Homo sapiens: one gene and its partners. The protein of the gene in region 1 purifies or fractionates together with the protein of each later gene. This does not show direct contact. Each region holds a gene or a part of one and is shown in the gene's direction. Other genes may lie near its edges.

Region 1 (3,500 bases):
ATTGTTTTTATTTTTCAGGCCAGACATAGCTTCCTAATGAAAGAAAATGGAAATGTAATTCGACGACTCCTCAAAGGGGACTTTAGAGGACTTCATACAAAGCTGGGCATTAAGAAAACCACAATGCATGGCCGGGCGTGGTGGCTTACACCTGTAATCCCAGCACTTTGGGAGGCCGAGGTGGGTGGATCACCCGAGGTCAGGAGTTCGAGACCAGCCTGGCCAACATGGTGAAACCCCATCACTACTAAAAATATGTAAATTAGTCGGGCGTGGTGTCACGTGCCTGTAATCCTAGCTGCTCGGGAGGCTGAGGCAGGAGAATCACTTGAACTTGGGAGGTGGAGGTTGCAGTAAGCTGAGATTGTGCCACTGCACTCTAGCCTGAGCAACAAGAGCAAAACTCAGTCTCAAAAAAAAAAAAAAAAAAAAAAAAAAAAAAAAAAAAGGAAAACCACAATGCGTACTAAAGACCAGAAGACATTGTTCACAAAACAAAAGCACCCTCACCTGCCAATGAATATGCAGCGTGCAGGGGGTGTGGTGTGAGTGTTGGTGGGGCCCCACCTCTCGGAGATACTGCTGTGCTGCCTTCCTCACTGACTGTATACATAGTAACTGTCATATCTTTAATGCCATGGACTCACTGAGCCGCTCTGCAAGGACTATTGTAGACAGGCACTTCACACCATAAAGTGGCATTTTTTTCGTTCCCCAAACTGACATTTACAAGCGATAAGAAAAGAGACAATATCCATTTCATTGACTGATCATTTTCTAGAGTATGAAGAAATACACACCTGGGTGTCTGCAAGGATGTCATCATCTTTGGGTTTCATCTGAGAGCATCACTCAGCATCTCACACATAGATGTTACCATATTTTTAAATGAGCTTTCCTCATCCGGCTCCCTAAGCAAGCGCTGTTGGCCGGTGGGAGTGACTAAGTGCTCCACCTGTGGGTGTCCTTCTTAATGTGCTGCTTTTGTTCTGTATAAATTCACACCACCTCACTCCCAAAAGTACTTCCTGTGGCTCAGAAAAATATGTTCAATAAGATTTTGGATAGATAAATCCATACAAAAATAAAAAGAGGTATAGTTATAAAACAAGACTACAGAAAAAGTTGTGGCAGAAATTGCATGCAGGAAAATCCCACACCATTAGTAAAAGTAAGGTCAACTGTAAGTTCAGCTCAGGGCTTCCTAGCAGCCATGTTTAGCGAAGTGTGATTTTTTTTTTTAAACAAAAACAAGCAAAGATTTGGAAGAAAATGCTTTAGACCTAACTTTACAATTATTATAACATAAGATGTTCCAGGGTCCTTGAATAAATGCTGAGTTTTAGGGAAATGATTCCAAGGGACCAAGAATTGGTAGAAATAATTTCAAGGCAGAGAAGACTAATTCTACAGGCCGGGCGTGGTGGCTTATGCCTGTAATCCCACACTTTGGGAGGCTGAGGTGGGTGGATTGCCTGAGGTCAAGAGTTCAAGACCAGCCTGGCCAACATGGTGAAACCCTGTCTCTACTAAAAATACAAAAAATTACCCAGGCATGGTGGCGGGCGCCTGTAATCCCAGCTACTTGGGAGGCTGAGACAGGAGAATGGCTTGAACCCAGGAGGTGGAGATTGCGGTGAGCTGAGATCGTGCCATTGCACTCCAGCCTGGGCAACAAGAGCGAAACTTCATCTCAAAAAAAAAAAACAAAGACTAATTCTATAGTACCCATGACCCTGCAACCAGAGAAACTGCCTGTAGGGAGGCCAGAGTCCAAAGCAGCCACCTGTAACCTGAAAATGAAACGCAGACCCAGGCATCTGTGGGTCTTCATCAGCAGGATGACCATTCTAAGGCTAAAAGACAGGCCTTTAAATCTGATGCTATAATTCCATCCAAATACACAGTTAGGTTTCTACCATAGGGAAAGCTATTCTCTACTTTTTGAAGTATCTGTTTCAAAGATAACTTGCTCTCTGGTTCTCTTTTATCTAAAAGAGAGAATCAACATGCTAATTTAAAGGTTAACATCATTTTAATTCAAAAATTTTAGTCTCCATTCCATATTTAATGATGAAGACAAATCTGCTGGGTGCTGGGAGGGAATAAAAAGTAATGCACCCCATTGATTTCAGAGTATCTGATCACTTGGGTTATGCAAGCTGCTACTTACCCGCCATTAGCATGGGTAGTTAAGTGCTGATTAAACCTAAGTGGACTCAGTGAAAAAGATATTGGGAAAAATAATATGATATTGTGGCCTATGTTGAATGATGTTAGCTTGTGTTTCAGTAACAGAGTTGGGTAATACTGGACGTGTAGATGAAGCTTTAGCAGGGCTGGGCACGGTGGCTCATGCCTGTAATCCCAGCACTTTGGGAGGCTGAGGCGGGTGGATTACCTGAGGTCAGGAGTTCAAGACCAGCCTGGCCAACATGGGGAAACCCTGTCTCTACTAAGAATACAAAAATTAGCTGGGTGTGGTGGCGTGTGCCTGTAATCCCAGCTACTCAGGAGGCTGAGACAGGAGAATCGCTTGAACCCGGGAGGCGAAGGTTGCAGTGAGCCAAGATCGCGCCACTGCACTTCAGCCTGGGTGACAGCACAAGACTCCATCTCAAAAAAAAAAAAAAAAGGAAGAAGAAAAAGAAACTTAAGTGGGGTTCATACATAGCATGGCAGAGGGACACTGGAGAATAAAATGGCATGCAGAGAGGAACACGCGGGCCAGTGGATGAGGCTTCTAGACCTGGCAGTGAACTGGAGTCTATTTGCTTACACAAATTTAACCTTCTCTCCATGATGGAATACAAGTGTTTCTTGCCAAAACTCGCAGCCCCAGCTGCCCTAGATGAGGAGCACCGTGCTGGAAAAGTGCACAGGCTGATCACAGAGACAGGTAGGAAGCAATGGACTGTTAAAATGCATGTTCCGGGCTGGGGATGGTGGCTCACACCTGTGATCTCAGCACTTTGGGAGGCCGAGGCTGGGGAATCGCTTGAGCCCAGGATTTTGAGACTAGCCTAGGCAATATGGTGAGACCCTGCCCTTAAAAAAAAAAAAGAAAAGAAAAGAAAAGAAAAAAAGATTCATATTCCTGATCAGCTCTGAATGTGACTATTCAATGAAGACAGTAAAGTTACAGTGTAAGGCACACATGACCTTTGGCCTTGCTAAAGAAGAGTGGCTGAAGGTCTAGCAAATTAATGCTTGTCTTAGGTTACCTGTTGATTTAAAAACAACAACAACAAAAACCCATAAAAATAGTAAAATATAAAAACAAATTAGTGTTTTATAGACCCTGGGGAAAAGAATTTTCAGCAAAGTACAAAAATTTAAAGCATTCCTTTCTTTAATTTTGTAATTCTTTACTGTAGAACAGCTCAAAATATCAGTTCTGTTTTAAGTAACAGAATTGATAACTGAGCAGGGAAACGTAATTTGGATTGTAAAATTCTTGCTTTAATAAAAATTCTTTAAACAGTCAAAATAGAAAGAAA
Region 2 (3,500 bases), on another chromosome or scaffold:
ATCAGTTATGGGCACTGTGTGTGGAGTCTTGGGCTGCTTTCTGCCTGGAGGGAATATCCCGTCAAGGAATCATTAGGCAGATATACCAGGTATACAAGAGCTCTGTGCCAGCTGAGCATCCTGGTGCGGGGAAGTCTGAAACGGAGAGGAAAGTAGAGCCTGATGACATAAATCTGGGCAGGCTTCCTGGAGCAGGTGAGCTAGGGCAGGTTAGAAGACTCAGAGGACTGTGGGCTGGTGTCTGGGTGGGAAGGAACAGCCTGTGCAGCAGCTTTGAGACGAGAGCAGGAGGAACAGAAGTGGGTGATGACAAGCAGGCTTGCTGGTGAGAGCTAGTGAGAATAAGCAAGTGATGAGGCTGGAGGGTAGGTGGGCAGTCGGCTGAGGACATGGCTGAGATGGGGGTCTGCTTTCAGCCTTCCCGGCTTCAGCTGAGCCACCGCTGGTACAGTCAGCCACCGCAAGTAGGTACAACACAGATGCAGAATTTGTTCCCATGTCCCTTGCCTACTCCCACCCCACCCCAGAAACATGGGCTCCTGCCCCGTTACTGCTAGGGTAAGCATTTGCTTTTTATATCTAGTTGGGCTCCCCCTGCTATGTGGTTTTGTTTGTTTGTTTGGGACAGAGTCTCACTCTGTCACCCAGGCTGGAGTACAATGGCGCGATCTCGGCTCACTGCAACCTCTGCCTCCTGGGTTCAAGCAATTCTCCTGCCTCAGCCTCCTGAGTATCTGGGACCTCCTGAGTAGCTGAGATTACAGGCACCCACCACCACGCCCAACTAATTTTTGTATTTTTAGTAGAGACGGGGTTTCACCATGTTGGTCAGTCTGATCTCGAACTCCTGACCTCGTGATCCACCCGCCTCAGCCTCCCAAAGTTCTGGGACTACAGGCGTGAGCCACTGCGCCCGGCCCCCTGCTATGTTTTAAAGTCCGTTTATTCTTTGTGGAGACTGAATAGATTGTCATCCACATCTCAGTGTTTTCTGAACACCTACTATGTGTAAGGCATTGTAATAAATACAAATATGAATATGCCAGTAGCTCATGCCTGTAATCCCAGTGCTCTAGAAGGCTGAGATGGAGGATCACTTGAGGCCAGGAATTTGAGACCAGCCTGGACAACACAGCAAGACCCCATCTCTACACACAAACAAAAATTAGCCAGGCATAGTTGTGAGCACCTGTGGTCTCAGCTATTTGGGAGGTTGAGGTGGGAGGATCGCTTGAGCCCAGGAGTTCGAGGCTACAGTGAGCTATGATCGTGCCACTGCTCTCCAGTGTAGGCGACAGAGAGTCTGTCTCTTAAAAAAAAAAAAAAAAAGACTATCCCTTCTTGCCCTGTAAAGCCATTTCCTCCTTCTCCAGGCCCCAGCTTTCATTTTTTAGCTAAATAAAATTCATTCCCATGTGTATGTGCATTCAGGTGTGTATGGTATTTCTGGGCTTAGGGTGTGTGGGTGGAATGAGACACCAGCAAGTGTGTTTTAGTGCTTAGCTGTTTATAAGTGAGTGTGTTGCCTGGGGGCATAGCAGGCATTTGGGTGTAATGGTTGAGCCAAGTGGGTGATGAGTAGCTAGAGGCCCTAGGACCAGAGAAGAGACTGACTCAGTGGGGCTCTGGGGTCTCAGAGTGGAGAGCTGCCCAGGCCCTTCTATCTCTGCCTTCCGGTCCCCCACCCCGACTCACCCTGTCTCCAGCATGGGGCAGTGGGTGATGATGTCACTGGTTAACGTGGCTCAGCTGGATTTCCTGGGGTGGGGCCCCCCAGGCTACCCACAGCAGCCCAGAGAGTTGGGCGGGAAGAATGCTTTGTGTTGGATGTTGCCATGGGGATAGCAGGTCTGCGCGCCCAAGCAGCCATGGGGCTCAGTGGGAGGGGGACTAGGTGGCCCACTGACCCAGTTTACCCACTCCCCCCCACCCCCGCCAACTCCCTGCTGCTGTGGGGGAGTGGGGAACACAGCCATGGTTGCGATTATCGTGGTGTTGAGGTGTAGAGGCTGAGGGGGCAGGGGGATGATTTTTGTGGGTCTCAGGATGCTCTGGGCCCTGTAGAAAAGTATGAAAAAGACAACATAGGGTTCCCGCGCAGGCAGCACAGACTCTGGGGGAAGGGAGCAGGAGCGGTGGCTTGGGCAGGGAAAGGTGCACAAACATTAAGAGGTGTGCCGTGCATCAGCGACAGAAGGTTTTGGGAAAGGATGCAAAGAGAACTGCAAATCTCATCCCCTGAGCCCTGAAGGAGTGATTGGCCCACACGTGACATACCTGGCTCAGCACCCTTATGCCAGTTGGAAAGGAGAGCCTTTCTTGGTGGGTGGTGCAGGAATATGCAGGCTGAATTGCAGCCCCAGGCTGGGTCCTGACTGTGTCCCTCTCCACAGACGGCGTACACAGCGTGACCGCCCAGTGCGCGCTGCGTGTGACCATCATCACCGATGAGATGCTCACCCACAGCATCACGCTGCGCCTGGAGGACATGTCACCCGAGCGCTTCCTGTCACCACTGCTAGGCCTCTTCATCCAGGCGGTGGCCGCCACGCTGGCCACGCCACCGGACCACGTGGTGGTCTTCAACGTACAGCGGGACACCGACGCCCCCGGGGGCCACATCCTCAACGTGAGCCTGTCGGTGGGCCAGCCGCCAGGGCCCGGGGGCGGGCCGCCCTTCCTGCCCTCTGAGGACCTGCAGGAGCGCCTATACCTCAACCGCAGCCTGCTGACGGCCATCTCGGCACAGCGCGTGCTGCCCTTCGACGACAACATCTGCCTGCGGGAGCCCTGCGAGAACTACATGCGCTGCGTGTCGGTGCTGCGCTTCGACTCCTCCGCGCCCTTCATCGCCTCCTCCTCCGTGCTCTTCCGGCCCATCCACCCCGTCGGAGGGCTGCGCTGCCGCTGCCCGCCCGGCTTCACGGGTGACTACTGCGAGACCGAGGTGGACCTCTGCTACTCGCGGCCCTGTGGCCCCCACGGGCGCTGCCGCAGCCGCGAGGGCGGCTACACCTGCCTCTGTCGTGATGGCTACACGGGTGAGCCAAGGGAGGGGACTCATGGGCCAGCCCTGGAAGGCTGACTGTGTGGTGCAGGCACAAATCAGGACAAATGCTGGCGGCTGCCTCATTCTCTTCCCGAGTGAGGTGCAGCTACACTGAGAGGTCATAAATCCGGCCTGCTCCCTGACAGCACCCCACTGAGGAAGGCAGTGCAAGGAGTGCTTCTCCCTGCTGTGCACAGGACACACAGGCAGTGCCATTGTGGGCAGAGCTGGCTCCAGAGCCAGTCGGCCTGTGTTCGTGTATCAGCTTTGCCGCTAGTAGCTGTGTGACCTTGAACAAGTTACTTAACCTTTCTGGCCCTCGGTTATTTGAAATGGAGATAATGACCGTACTTAGGTCATAAGTTGGTTGTGAGGATTAATGTAATTAATTTGATACTTGGAAACAGCTGGTGGCATGGAAGGTGTTGGCCTTGATTTAAGGGAACGCTGA
Region 3 (3,500 bases), on another chromosome or scaffold:
TCTAGAATTTCATGTAAGTGGAATGATGTAATACATACTCTTTTGTATCTGGCTTTTTCTCTTGGCATGTTTTTCAGGATTATCCATGTTTTTCTGTATTTAACGGGTTCTCATTTTATTGCTGAATAGAAGTCCTTGGTATTGATTTACTAGTTTGTTGACCATTCCACCTATTTACAGATACTTGGATTGTTTCCAGTTTGGGGCTGTTATTAATAAATAGCCTTCATTTGTTGAACATTCCTTTATTCAATGAACATTCATTTATTTTGAATTTTTGTGAACATCTTTTTTTTCTTGGTAAATACCTAGACATGGAACTTGTTGGGTTGTATGATACATGGATGTTTATAAGAAACTGCCAAACTGTTTTCCAGAGTGGTTGTCACATTTTACATATCCATCAGCAGTGTATGACAGTTCCAATTGCTCCACATCATCCTCAGCACTTGGTTATTTCAGTCTTTTAAATTTTAGCCCTTTTAGTGGGTATATAGTAGTATCATACTGGGATTTTGATTTGCATTTACCAGATGACTAATGGTGCTGAGAATTTGCTCTAGTGTATGTCTTCCTTTGTGAAGTATCTGTTGACATTTTTTGCTCATTAAAAAACAAACAAACAACAATGGGTGGGCCTGGCGCGGTGGCTCACGCCTGTAATCCCAGCACTTTGGGAGTCCGAGGCAGGCGGATCACGAGGTCAGGAGATCCAGACCATCCTGGCTAACACGGTGAAGCCCCATCTCTACTAAAAATACAAAAAATTAGCCGGGCGTGGTGGCGGATACCTGTAGTGCCAGCTACTCCGGCTGAGTTAGGATAATGGCGTGAACCCGGGAGGTGGAGCTCGCAGTGAGCCAAGATCGTGCCACTGCACTCCAGCCTGGGCGACAGAGCGAGACTCCGTCTCAAAAAAAAAAAAAAAAAAAAATGGGTTTGTCTTATTGAGTTGTAAGCATTTTTTAATACATTCTTTATACAACTCATTTGACACACAGAGATACATAAACACACACACACACTGCAATCTGAAGCTTGTTTTTTTTTTATTTTCCTAACTTTAAAAGAAGAGCTTTTAATTTTGATAAATTCATCTTACCAACTTTTTCTTATGATTTGTGCTTCTGTGTTCTAAGAACTCTTTGCTTAATGCAAAGTTGTGCAGATTTACTCTTAGGATTTTTCTATAAGTTTTCTAGTTTTGGCTTTCATGTCAAGGCACATTATCCATTTTGGGTTAGTTTTTGTATATGGTGTGTAGTAAGGGTCAAGGCTCATTTTCTTTTCAAATGTATATGTAGTTCTAGCACCATTTGTTGGGACTACTTTCCTTTCCCCATTGAATTAACTTTGTCAAAAGTCAGTTGATCATATATGTAAATCTGTTCCTGTACTTTTCTCTTGATCTTTATGCCTATAATTTTGCCAGTACTGAGTTATCATGGTTATTTTTACTTATAAGTATTGAAATTAGGTAATATGAATCCTTGAACTTTATTCTTTTTCAAAATTGCCTTGGCTATTCTAACTTTACCGTAAAGCTTTTAGAGGCTGCGTGTTGGTTTCTACAAAAAGACCTGAAGGGATTTTAATTTGGTTTGTGTCGAATGCATAGATCAATTTAGGAAGAATCGACATCTTGAGTCTTCCAATTCATGAATACAGGTTGTCTCCATTTATGTAGGTCTTCTTTCATTTCCTTTGTCAGCATTTTGTAGTTGCAGCATGAAGATGTTGCTCATTTTGTTGGATTTATATCTAAGTATTTAATAATTGATACCATTATAAGTGATAATTTTCTTAAATTTTAGTTTCCAGTTATTCACTGCTATATGTAAAAATACAGTTGGTTTTTGCATATGGACCTTGATGCTTGCAACCTTGCTAAATTCATTCATTTGAGTAAATTTTTTGTAGATTCTCTGGAATTGTCCTATGTAGACAATCATGTTATTTGCAAATATAGATCAGTTTTATTATTTTTGAATTTATATGTAACTCCTTCCACCTTTTCTTCTTCTTAGACTGGCTAAGACCTCCATTATGATGTTGAATAGCAGTGGTGAAAGCAGATATCCTTCTCTGTTCCTGATCTTAAGAAGAAAGCTTTGAATCTTTCATTATTGAGTGTGATAGAGTGGTGCTATAGCTTGAATGCTTATGTCCCTTCCAAAATTCATAGCATTGAAACATAATCCCCATTGTGAGGGGGATCTCAAGGAGGTGATTAGGTCATGAAGCTTCTGCCTTCATTAATGGATTCGTGTGCTTATAAAAGAGGTCCCAGAGAGCTCCTATCCCCTTATGCCGTATGAGAACACAGTGAAAAAACTGCAGTCTGTGAACCAGGAAGTGGCTCTCACCAAACGCTGAATCTACCAGCACCTTGATTTTGGACTTCCCAGCCTCCAGAACTGTGAAAAATAAATTTCTTTTATTTTTATTTCTATTTTTTTTTGACAGAGTCTTGCTCTGTCGGCTAGGCTGGAGTGCAGTGGCAGTCTCAGCTCGCTGCAACCTCGGTCTCCCAGGCTCAAGCAATTCTGCCTCAGCCTCCCGAGTAGCTGGGATTACAGGCGTATGTCACCATGCCTGGCTAATTTTTGTATTTTTAGTAGAGACGGGGTTTTACCATGTTGGCCAGGCTGGTCTCAAACTCCTTACCTCAGGTAATCCACCTGCCTTGGCCTCCCAAAGTGCTGGAATTACAGGTGTGAGCCACCGCGCCCAGCCGAGAAATAAATTTCTGTTGTTTATAAGCCACTTCAGTCTATGGGAGCTTGTTATAGGAGTCCTAATGGACTAAGACAAGTGGCCTTTTATCATATTGAGGATGTTCCCATTCTATTCTTGGATTGCTGAGAGGTTTTTGTTGTTGTTGTTGTTGTTGTTGTTGTTTTTGAGATGGAGTCTTGCTCTGTTGCCCAGGCTGGAGGGCAGTGGCACCATCTCAGCTCACTACAGCCTCCGCCTCCTGGGTTCAAGTGATTCTTCTGCCTCAGCCCCCTGAGTAGCTGGGATTACAGGTACACGCCACCAAGCCTGGCTAACTTTTTTGTATTTTTGTAGAAATGGGGTTTTACCATGTTGGCCAGGCTGGTCTTGAACTCCTCACCTCGTGATCTGCCCGCCTTGGCCCCCCAAAGTGTTGGGATTACAGGCATGAGCCACTGCGCCTGGCAGAGAGTTTTTTTTTTTTTTTTTTTTAAATCATGAGTGGATGTTGATTTTAGTCAGGTATTATTACTGTATTTATTGAGATGATCATATGGTTTGTTTCTGTGTTAATGTGATGAATTACGTTAACTTATTTGCGAATGTTGAATCATCTTCCATTCTGTGGTTAAACCTCACTTGGTGATGGTGTATTATCTACTATCATTTTTATAAATTGGTGAAATTTTTTTTTTTTTTGCATCTATGTTCATGAAAGATACTTTTTCATATAATGCTGGTTTCATAGAGTTGCAAAGTGTTTCTTATATTTTTGAAAAAGA
Region 4 (3,500 bases), on another chromosome or scaffold:
TTTTTAGTAGAGATGTTTTTGCCATGTTGACCAGGCTGGTCTTGAACTCCTGACCTCAGGTGATCTGCCTGCCAAAGTGTTGGGATTATAGGTGTTAGCCACTGTGCCCAGCTATATATTTGTTTCTGATTTTTTTTGTTGTTCTTTCTATGTGGGTTGCAAATATCTTCTATGTGGTTTTTCTTTTTAAAGAAGTTGTGCCTTGAATAGAAGCTCTTCATTTTAATGTGGTAAAACTTATCAATACTTTTCCTTATGGTTAGTGCTTTTTGTGTCTTGTTCTACTTAGTATTGATTTTTGTGTAGTAGAAGTAGGGGCGCAATTTCATTTTTTCTCCATACAGATGGCCAATTGCTATTGCTGTATTTATTGAAAAGCCCTTCCTTTGTGCACTGATTTGCTGTCCCACTGTCATATATCAAGTGCCCATAATATGTGTGAATGTGTTTCTTGGTTCTTCTGTTCTCTACTGTTTATCTGTTAGTATATCCCTGTGTGAACAGCATGTTTTCTCAGTTATCCCTTTATAATATGTCTTAATATCTGGTAAAGCAGGTCCTTCCATCTTGTCCTACAAGAGTGTGTTGGCCAGTTTTGGCACTTTACATTTCTTAGAATCATAGTATTAAAAAGCCTGCAGGAGTGTATTTGGATATTAAATTTATAAGCCAATATAGGGAGAATTAATATCATTACAACATGAAGTCTTCTGATTCATTAATTTAGGTCTTTTTTATTGCTTCGCAGTTAAGTTTTATATTTTTTTCCTCAAAGATTTTTCACATCATTGTAAAATTTATTCCTAGATACTTCATAATTTTATAATATTGTAGAAAATATGAGCCAGGCACAGTGGCTCACACCTGTCAGCTATATGGAAGGCTGAGGTGGGAGGATTGCTTCAGTCTAGGAGTTTGAGGCTGCAGTGAGTTATGATCCTGCCATTTCCCTCCAGCCTGGTCGACACGGCAAGACCCTATCTCTAAAATAAAAATAAATGGTTTTAAGTTTTGTTTTCTAATTGAATATAGGAATATGATTAACTTTTATATATTGTTTTTTTGTGATCTATCTGCTGAATTATCTTACATATCCTAATAATTTATCTGTAGATTTATTCTACATACCTGATTGTATTATGTGTGAAGAGAGATACTTTTTGTTTGTTTCTTTTCAATCCTTATATCTGTTATTTGTTTTTTCTTGCCTTACTGCATTGGATAGCACCCCGAGTATTATGTTGAATGGATGTGGTTGGTGGGTATTCTGGCCTTGTTCCTAGTCTAGCAGTAATTGATAACATTGCACAAATAAGTGATATGTTCTATGGTTTTTGAAAATAGATATGTTTTATCAGTTTAAAAAAATTCTAGTCCTGGTTTGCTAAGTTTTTCTGAATTTTGATTGGTTATTTAATATCAAATGCTTTTTTTGCATCTTTTGGGATGATCATGTGATTTTCTCTTTCACTTTTATGATGATGAATTACATTAATTGATTTACTTATTAAAGTTAATTTTTAAAATCAGTGATACATTCATATACCTCAAAAGCCTGTGTCCTTTTCACCTGATTCTTCTACCAGCTGTTGGTAACTACTTGTTTTTTCTTAGAAACAGGATCTTACTCTGTTGATCAGGCTGGAATGCAGTGGTGGGAGCATAGCTCACTGTAATCTCAAATTCCTGGGCTTAAGCAATCCTCCCACCTGAGCATCCTGAGTTGCTAGGACTACAGGTGTGCCACCATGCCTGGCTAACTATTTATTTTTTATTTTGTAGAGATGGGTGTCTTGCTATGTTGCCCAAGTTGGTCTTGAACTCCTAGCCTCAAGCAGTCCTCCCGCCTCAACCTCCTACAGCTGTGGGATTACAGGCTGTTCCTGGCCAATAACCATTTTTATTAGTTTTTTGGTTACCCTTCAGGTGTGTGTTTCTGCAAATATAGGTGTGTGCATATATATGGTCTTACTTTCATCTCTTCGTATTGTTGTATTTTATAATTAAAGCAGAAAGACTAGCATTTCTGGGATATCCTTGATCCAACTTGGTCATAATGAAGTAGCCTTATGTTTTTGGATTTGGCTTATTAATAATTTATGTAGTTTTTTTTCATTTATATTTATGGGAGAAATTGGCCTATCATTGTTCTTTTACTGTTCTTATGGGATTTTGCTATCAAAGTTTGGCTTCATAGTCTGAGGCAGAGTGTAGTGTTTCTTATATATTCTTTCTCTCTTTTAATGGTCTGGAAGTATTTGTGAAAGATTGAAATATTTCTTCCTATATTGATTGGTAGAACTGACCATGGAAGCCATCTATTCCTGGAGAGAGTGAAGGGGGAAGGGAGAGTTGGTTTATTGTTGGTGCTTTCTTTTGTTTTGTTTTTTGGTTTTACATTTTTTAACTGATCACCAACATTTTATTATTTTTAGTTTCAAACTTTTAAGTTCTGGGGTACATGTGCAGGATGTGCAGGTTTGTTACATAGGTAAACATGTGCCATGCTGGTTTGCTGCACAGATCATCCCATCACTTAGGTATTAAGCCCAGCATCCATTAGCTATTCTTTCTGATGCTCTCCTTCCTCCCACCCCCTATCCACTGACAGGCTCCAGTGTATGTTGTTCCCCACAATGTGTTCATATGTTCTATCATTCAGCTCCCACTTGTAAGTGAGAAGATGCAGCATTTGGTTTTCTGTTCCTGCATTAGTTTGCTGAGGATAATGGCTTCTGGCTCCATCCATGTCCCTGCAAAGGACATGATCGGATTCCTTTTTATGGCTGCATAGTATTCCATGGTATATGTACCACATTTTCTTTATCCAGTCTATCACTGATGGGCATTTAAATTGATTCAGTGTCTTAGCTATTGTGAATAGCACTGCAGTGAACATACACGTGCGTGTATCTGTGTAATAAAATAATCTATTTTCCTTTGGGTGTATACCCAGTAATGGGATTGCTAGGTATTATTGTTTTACATAGTATTTTTGACTATGGACTCAATTTCTTTAATAGTCATAGGTCTGTCTAGGTTGTCTATTTTTTCTTAGGTCAGTTTTGATAAGTTACATTTTCTCAGACGTTTGTCCATTTTATGTAAATTTTCAAATGTGCTAGTATAAATTTGTGAATCATAATTCTTTTTTTTTCATTCTGTAGCTGTCTTAGCTATTCCTTTAAGAACTGTAGGCATATTGATTGATAATCTGCCTCTGATAATTCTAGTATGTGAAGACTTTGTGGACCTCTTTTTGCTGCTGTTTTTAGTTTTTCATGTTTCATGTTTTTATTTCTTTTTGTGCTGGGTTCTGTGTAGCTGTGTAGCTTCTCATTGCCTTTTAAAAACTGCTTATGGGACTTTTCCAAATCTTGCATGAAGCTGCATACTTCAAGAGAGGATTCGAGTTTGATTCTGCTAAGGCCTGAGAGTACAACTTGTTTAGAATCCCCTTCTACTAAATTAATTTCTTGAGGTTTCTTGGACCAAACTTT

The links. Proteins that work in one complex are often made in the same cells at the same time.
Region 2: the proteins of SSTR2 (region 1) and CELSR2 purify together in Homo sapiens (co-immunoprecipitation; one large-scale study listed by IntAct). This does not show direct contact.
Region 3: the proteins of SSTR2 (region 1) and PJA2 purify together in Homo sapiens (co-immunoprecipitation; one large-scale study listed by IntAct). This does not show direct contact.
Region 4: the proteins of SSTR2 (region 1) and TRIM44 purify together in Homo sapiens (co-immunoprecipitation; one large-scale study listed by IntAct). This does not show direct contact.

What each region holds. Positions count from the first base shown.
Region 1 is NC_000017.11:73,171,510-73,175,009, forward strand, and holds part of SSTR2 (somatostatin receptor type 2), read left to right. Parts: 3' UTR 1-3,500.
Region 2 is NC_000001.11:109,256,039-109,259,538, forward strand, and holds part of CELSR2 (cadherin EGF LAG seven-pass G-type receptor 2 precursor), read left to right. Parts: intron 1-2,393; coding exon 2,394-3,041; intron 3,042-3,500. UniProt on the Homo sapiens protein: Receptor that may have an important role in cell/cell signaling during nervous system formation.
Region 3 is NC_000005.10:109,403,475-109,406,974, reverse strand, and holds part of PJA2 (E3 ubiquitin-protein ligase Praja-2), read left to right. Parts: intron 1-3,500.
Region 4 is NC_000011.10:35,665,775-35,669,274, forward strand, and holds part of TRIM44 (tripartite motif-containing protein 44), read left to right. Parts: intron 1-3,500. UniProt on the Homo sapiens protein: May play a role in the process of differentiation and maturation of neuronal cells. May regulate the activity of TRIM17. Is a negative regulator of PAX6 expression.